2 linked regions of the Homo sapiens genome follow. Changing the gene in region 1 together with any one later gene gives a genetic interaction. Each region holds a gene or a part of one and is shown on either strand. Other genes may lie near its edges.

Evidence for each region.
Region 2: changes in UBE2G2 (region 1) and GBF1 together harm fitness more than expected from each alone (negative genetic interaction), as found in Homo sapiens cells (one study listed by BioGRID).

Annotation. Positions count from the first base shown.
Region 1 is NC_000021.9:44,791,571-44,795,383, forward strand, and holds part of UBE2G2 (ubiquitin-conjugating enzyme E2 G2), read right to left. Parts: intron 1-3,813. UniProt on the Homo sapiens protein: Accepts ubiquitin from the E1 complex and catalyzes its covalent attachment to other proteins. In vitro catalyzes 'Lys-48'-linked polyubiquitination. Involved in endoplasmic reticulum-associated degradation (ERAD).
Region 2 is NC_000010.11:102,363,860-102,367,672, reverse strand, and holds part of GBF1 (Golgi-specific brefeldin A-resistance guanine nucleotide exchange factor 1), read right to left. Parts: intron 2,277-3,813; coding exon 2,074-2,276; intron 1,291-2,073; coding exon 1,167-1,290; intron 589-1,166; coding exon 463-588; intron 196-462; coding exon 113-195; intron 1-112. UniProt on the Homo sapiens protein: Guanine-nucleotide exchange factor (GEF) for members of the Arf family of small GTPases involved in trafficking in the early secretory pathway; its GEF activity initiates the coating of nascent vesicles via the localized generation of activated ARFs through replacement of GDP with GTP.

The sequences.
Region 1 (3,813 bases):
GGAACCTTCACCTACATTTCAGAGGATGTAGGGAAACGCCTGGATGTCCAGACAGAAATCTGCTGCAGGGGCAGGGCCCTCATGGAGAACATCTGCTAGGGCATTGCAGAAGGGAAATGTGGGGTTGGAGCTCCCAGAGTCCCCACTGGGGCACTGCCTAGTGGAGCTGTGAGAAGAGAACAACCATCCTCCAGACCCCAGAACGGTAGATCCACCAAGAGCTTTGCACTGTGCACCTAGAAAAGCCAAAGACACTCAATGCCCACCATGAAAGTAGCTGAAGGGGGTGGGTGTGGGAGGGCTGTACCCTACAAAGCCACAGGGGCAGAGCTGCCCAAGACCATGAAAGCCACTCCCTGTATCAGTGTGCCCTGGATGTGAGACACGGGGTCACAAAGGAGACCATTTTGAGCTTTAAGATTTAATGACTGCCCAGCCGGATTTCGGACTTGCATGGGGGCCTGTAGCCCTTTGTTTTGGCCAATTTCTTCCATTGGTAATGGGAGTATTTATCCAATGCCTGTATTTCCATTGTATCTTGAAAGTAACTAACTTGCTTTTGATTTTACAGGCTGCTAGGCAGAGGGGACTTACCTTGTCAGAGATGAGACTTTGGACTTGGACTTTTGAGTTAATGACGAAATGAGTTAAGACTTTGGGGGCCTTGCTGGGAAGGCATGATTTGTTTTGAAATGGAATGGTTTTGAAAGGAACATGAGATTTGGGAGGGGTAGGGGGAGAAATGACATGGTTTGGCTTTGTGTCCCTACCCGAATCTCACCTTGACTTGTAATCCCCAAAGTGTTGAGCGAGGAACCTGGTAGGAGGTGACTGGATCATGGGGGCAGTTTCCCTCATGCTGTTCTCGTGATAGCGAGTTCTCAGGAGACATGATGGTTCTATAAGTGTGTGGCAAGTTCTTCCTTGGCTTGCTCTTCTCTCTCCTACCGCCTTGAGAAGAGGTCTGTTTCCCTTTCTGCCATGACTATAAGTTTCCTGAGGCCTCGTCAGTTATGCAGAACTGTGAGTCAACTAAACCTCTTTCCTTTATAATTACCCAGTCTCAGGTAGTATCTTTATGGCAGTATAAGAACGGACTAATGTACCGATTAACCGTTTAATGAACCCACAACCTTGGGTAGAACAAGGCCTACCCAAGGAAAAATTATTTCACTCAAAATACCACTAACACCTGCTGAGAAGCCCTGATCCAGGAAACAGAGGTCCTGAAGAGACCTAAGTGCTGTCACAAGGGTGTGCTGACACCCAGCAGTGAGAGAAGGCAGAGTGGCAAGGAGGGGCCAGCAAGGCAGGCCAAAGGCAAGTGCTGGCCCCAAGGGCCAAGTGCATTAAACATTTCAGGGGTGGGTGGGAACTGAATGTGAATGAGGTCAAGTACCAAGCCGACTAAGACCTTGGATTTCACAAGCCACACCCTGATGTTCTCCCTTTGTGTCTCTTCATGTGGAGTAGATCAGGAGAAATAACCACAGAACCTAATTTGCTAGGCTTCCTACACCCAGTCATCTAAAATCTAGTCCCATTCTTGTGTCTCAAGCCAAACCGCCTAATTATAAGAAAAAAATAACAGATTACGGCAGATAGACTGTAAACTGCTAAGCAGGTGGGGTGCGGGAGAAACACAATGTCAGTGGGCAACTAAGTAGAGGCCTGGCAGCAGAACACACAAAAGCTTTACAAATCACCTTCGTGGGACCATGAAGAAGAGCTCGTACCAAAGAGAGCTGGCTTTATTCTTCATCTGGAGTTCCCCTTTGGCACTCCCCTGCGTGACACCCTCCCTTAGGGAGGGGAAAGGGTGGTCTAAAAACTGCAGCTCCAGACCTGCTCCTGGCAATGCAGGCTCAGCACAGAGACCTGCCCGGGTGTGCGCTGGCCTTCCCGCCAGCTTTGTTATTCAACAGTGGCCTCTACTGGTCAATAAAGAAGTGCAGCAAATGAGTTCAGAGGCTGGAGGGAATGGTTCAGGGCACTTATTTTTTCCATTTTGTTTTTTGCTTCCAAAGCATATACACGCGTACACAAAATAATATACAGTTTCATGTTTACTGATAAGAAACAAGTTCAAAAAAAGAGACGAATCTTGGTATCAGGGAAATTTTCAGAGGCCATTCCTTGCCACTTAAAATAGTGGCTTAACAAATAGCTACCACACAAAGTGAAATATAACCTTTGACCCAGCAATTCCATTTCTAGGAATCCATCCCACAGATAACATTGGTGAAGATAAAAAATGTATACACAGGCTATTCATTTCAGGACTATTTGTAAAAACAAAAAGAAATTAAAAAGAACTTGAGTGTCTATCAACAGAGGACCAGTCAAATTATGATACATATACCAGTGGGGTACTTTGCAGCTATAAATACCTCTACATGCTAGTACAGAACAAACTTCAGGACATATTACATGAAAAAAAAGAAGGTGGAGAAAAGTGTGTGACTAGGGCCTTTAAGAGGTAATTAAAATTAATGTGGTCATTAGGGTGGACCTTAATCCAATCTGACTAATATCCTTTTAAGAAGAGATGAGGACACAGGCATAGAGGACAGAGCCTCAGAAGAAACCAGCCCTGCCCTATCCTTGATCTTGGACTTCCAGCCTCCAGGACTATGAGGAAATACATTTCTGTTGTTTAAGCCGTGCCCAGCCTGTGTGGTAGAGCAGCCCTAGCAAACACAGTGCTGAAACAACTGCACTGCCATTTACAAATAATTTACAAATAAACCTTGGCCTTTATCTCATACCATATGGAAAACTTTGATATGGATCCCAAACCTAAATACAAGAGCTGAAACTATAAAACATCTAGAAGAAATCATAGGAGAAAATCCTACTGCCACCTGATGTTTGGCAGTTATTTCTTAAATATAACACAATAGCAAGAAATATTTTAAAAGTCAATAATTGAATTTCATCGAAATAATAAAAACCCTTCTTTTTTTGTTTTTTTTTTTTTTTGAGACGGAGTCTCGCTCTGTCACCCAGGCTGGAGTGCAGTGGCGTGATCTCGGCTCACTGCAAGCTCCACCTCCCAAGTTCACGCCATTCTCCTGCCTCAGCCTCCTGAGTAGCTGGGACTACAGGGGTCCGCCACCATGCCCAGCTAATTTTTTGTATTTTTAGTAGAGAGGGGGTTTCACCGTGTTAGCCCGGATGGTCTCCATCTCCTGACCTCGTGATCCGCCCACCTCAGCCCACAAAGTGCTGGGATTACAGGCGTGAGCCACTGCGCCCAGCCAAAGAACTAAAACTTAAGAAAATCAACACAATTTTGAAAGAAGCAAAGACTCAAGTCACTTTATCTAAAAAGACATATGGATGGCAAATAAACACGTGAAATGATGCTCAACATCACGAGTCTTATGGAAATGCAAATGAAAACCTCAGTAAGGGCCGGGGGCTGTGGCTCATGCCCGTAAATCCCAGCACTTTGGGAGGCGAGGCAAACTCCTGAGGTCAGGAGTTAGAGACCAGCCTAGCCAACATAGTGAAATCCCGTTTCTACTAAAAATACAAAAATTAGCCAGGTGTGGTGGCACGCGCCTATAGCCCCAGCTACTTGGGAAGCTGAGGCAGGAGAATTACTTGAAGCCAGGAGGCAGATGTTGCAGTGAGCTGAGATCATGCCACTGCACTCCAGCCTGGATGACAGAGAGAGCACCTCAAAAATAAAAAATAAAAAAAAATAAATAAATAAAACAAAACCTCAGTAAGACTGCTATACACCCAATAGAATGGCTAAAATTTTTAAAACTGGAAGGGCGCAGTGGCTCGCAGTTGTAATTCCAA
Region 2 (3,813 bases), on another chromosome or scaffold:
TAAATCCAGGGCATGTGAGTCACTGCAGTCTGACATGACTCTAAAAACTGGGAAAGGAAGCAATGTGCTTCTTCTTAACAGAGATACTGCACTATTCTCTATGTATACTCACTTGATGGCATGGTACATGTCCTCCAGGATGTCTTGCTCAAAGTCCTTGCCTCCATTCACACCTTTCAGATTTTTGCGAAACTCCTAGAGACAGGCCAGTAAGTTTTTTCCCCTTGTGTCAACACTGAAGCCCCACCTAAGGAACTCCTGGGTTTTCAGTAAATAGGACTTAGGAAAAGGTAAGCGAAAAAACCCACTTCCCCACCCCAGTCCCTTTTCTAGGTTGGCCAGCCCTTCCTGATTCCCTTGGACAGAACCCCATCCATCATGCCCACTGGAAATCCTATGTCCTTCCTGCTACCTCCCAAGCTGTGCTGGGTCTTCTTTGCCTTGACTGGGACCCAAGCTTACCTCCAGGGTCATGGGTGCATTCTGTTTACGAACATTGTGGTTGTGCTGGTCAGTATTAAGCATGATGACAGCATAGGCCAGGGAAAAGCAGGCATCGCTATTGGCAAATGGGGAGCCATTACAATTCTGAAAAAGCAAAGATCCCGCCTGTGTCAATGCCCTTCTCTGGCCAATTAAACCCTCACTACCAACCCACTGGTCAGTGCTAGTACAGAGGAGAGGTACCATCCAGAAAGTGGCCAGTCTCTTGCCAACTCCTTAACAGAAGCTGATCTCTTTGTGGAAAGGTCACTAATTTTGCTCTCTGACTTTTTAAGAGACAGCAGGCTGGGTGCGGTGGTTCACGCTTGTAATCCCAGCACTCAGGGAGGCCGAGGTGGGCGGATCACCCGAGATCAGGAGTTCGAGACCAGCCTGACCAACATGGCAAAACCCATCTCTACTAAAAATACAAAAATTAGCCAGGCTTGGTGGCAGGTGCCTGAAATCCCAGCTACTCAGGAGGCTAAGGCAGGAGAATTGCTTGAACCCGGGGGGTGGAGGTTGCAGTGTGCTGAGACTGCGCTACTGCACTCCAGCCTGGGTGACAGAGCGAGACTCTGTCTCAAAAAAAAAAAAAAAAAAAAGAGACAGCAGCTGGATTCTTCAGCCCTCAGTCAAACTGACCTTGGATCCTGGGCTCAGCCCCTGACACTCAAACTCACCATCCAACGCTCTGTGAATGCCTCCAGCAACCTCTGGATGACTGGTGCTTCCCCAGGCAAACGGAAGGCTTCCAGGTAGAGGCGGAGGGCTTCGTCCAGTCGCAGACCCTGAAAACTGAAGGTGCTATAGGGAAAGAAAGGAAGAAGAGGCTGAAAATGTGTAAGCTGCACATGTCAGGCTCTTTTAGTCACTGTCCTCCTAACCTACTCTTACTGGAAGAGAGGAGGCTGAGGTCTCTAGTAAAGGGGCAGTATCTCCTGTTCATCCCTAACACAACCCCTAGCCTTAATACTTTTCACATCCACGGACTCTTGCCTAGAACCCTCACCCCCTGGAACCCTGCTCTACCCCTTTGGAATGGACTCCATGCAGAATGGAGGGGGCTCCCCAAACTATCTCGTTGGAGTCCCTTTCAGGTCCAATAGATATAAATGATGGGTAGAGGAAGAACATTGGCTAGGGTCTCCAGAAGAAATTTATAGAGACCGCTTTGAGGTAGGGATGTTCTGTCCCTTTAAACTGATCACTAACCATGTCCCACCTTTTTTTTTTTTGAGCCAAGGTCTCACTCTATCACAGCTCTATCACAGTGGCATGATCTCACTCTATCTCACTCTATCTCACTCTATCACAGTGGCATGATCACAGCTCACTGCAGCCTCGAACTCCCAGACTCAAGTGATCTTCCTGCCTCAGCCTCCTGAACAGCTGGGACTACAGGCACATGCCACCATGCCCAGCTAATTTTTGTATTTTTTGTAGAGACAGGGTTTCACCATGTTGCCCAGGCTGGTCTTGAACTCCTGAGCTCGAGTGATCTGCCTGCCTCAGCCTCCCAAAGTGTCAGGATTACAGGCATGAGCCACCATACCTGGCTATATCCCACATTTCTTACAGCTTCCTCACCTCACAAAGCTCTCCAACAGGTCAATGTTTTTGCGGTCACTCACAAACTCTCCAATCATCTTCTTGTCCAGCCGAGGGTTCTCTCGGAGCCACTGAGCAACCTCTGTGTTGTCCATTGGGATGGTGAGGAGGCCTTTCTCTTGCAGAAACTGAATCCCCTTCTTTGGTTTCTGATTGAACTGCTCTGTGCCAGTGATTAGCAGCTGCATGAGAAAAACTAGAGGTATAGAAGCTACTTTGCCTCTAAATTAGACAAGGCCAGCCTGGAGTCCACCATAGCCCACCCACAGTTGGTCAGCTAAAAAGCTCCTAGGATGTGGTTCTTAGTGATTACAGAACTAAGGCTAGATCATAATGGCCTTAGCTTCCCCCATCTTCATGTCTAATTGAATTGGCTTACGAGCTCTTTTTTACTCCTTTCCTGAGTGCTCAAGATACATAAAACAGTTCCTCTTCTCTAACTTAGGATTGGGGGAAAAGTAGAAGAAAGAAACTAGGTAATTCTTCTCTCCAGTTTTATATCCATCCCTGACATTTGTTGATAGCCAGCCTCTTGTTTTTAGCCTAGCTTAGCTTCTTTGGTTGCCTAGCTTAATGCCCTGGGTTTGAAAGACAAAGTGGACTAACTGTGGAGGCAACTCATATTTCTGTATGTCCAGTCACGGCCAGGTACTCAAGGGCACACATGAACCAAAGTCATTTAAGCTGGCAATAAGAGAAAGAAAGGGTTAGGTTTTTTTTTTCTTTTTCCGAGATGGAGTTTCACTCTGTTGCCCAGGCTGGAGTGCAGTGGCGTGATCTCAGCTCACTGCAACCTCTGCCTCCCAGGTTCAACTGATTCTCCTGCCTCAGTCTCCCGAGTAGCTGGGATTACAGGCATGCACCACCATGCCCAGCTAATTTTTGTATTTTTAGTAGAGACGGGGTTTCATCGTGTTAGCCAGGCTGGTCTCAAACTCCTGACCTCAGGTGATCTGCCCACCTCGATCTCCCAAAGTGCTGGGATTACAGGCGTGAGCCACTGCGCCCGGCCAGAAAGGGTTAGGTTTTCTTTGTGTTAAGAAACCCAAAGTACAGGCCAGACATGGTGGCTCACGACTGTAATCCCAGCACTTTGGGAGGCCAAGGTGGGCAGATCACGAGGTCAGGAGATCAAGACCACCCTGGCTAACACGGTGAAACCCCGTCTCTACTAAAAATACAAAAAATTAGCCAGGCATGGTGGCACACGCCTGTAGTCCCAGCTACTTGGGAGCCTGAGGCAGAAGAATTGCTTGAACCCGGTAGGTGGAGGTTGCAGTGAGCTGAGATCATGCCACTGCACTCCAGCCTAGGCAACAGAGAGAGACTCCGTCTGAAAAAAAAAAAAAAAAAAAAAAAAAGAAATCCAAAGTACAAACAGTTATTTGAACCTTACTATTTGAACCTTACTAAAGCACCAGAATGAATATCAATTTCCCTTTATTGCCAATCATCTTGCAAGAGCTGGAGATGACAGTAACCTTCAATGACCCACAAGACACCAACTCCCAAGGCTCCTGTCACTGCCACTAGTGACACTTGGCTCTCAACTGGTACAGCATTTGCGCAGGGGCATACATAGGGTATGCTCAACTACATAGCTTAGGAGTAAGGGAAGGGCTTCAAATGGGAGTTGCTGAAGTCCCAACAAGCCCAAAGACTGGCCTCAGGAAGCTGTACAATGAGGTGCTAGACTCTCCTTCATCTTCTGAGATGGAA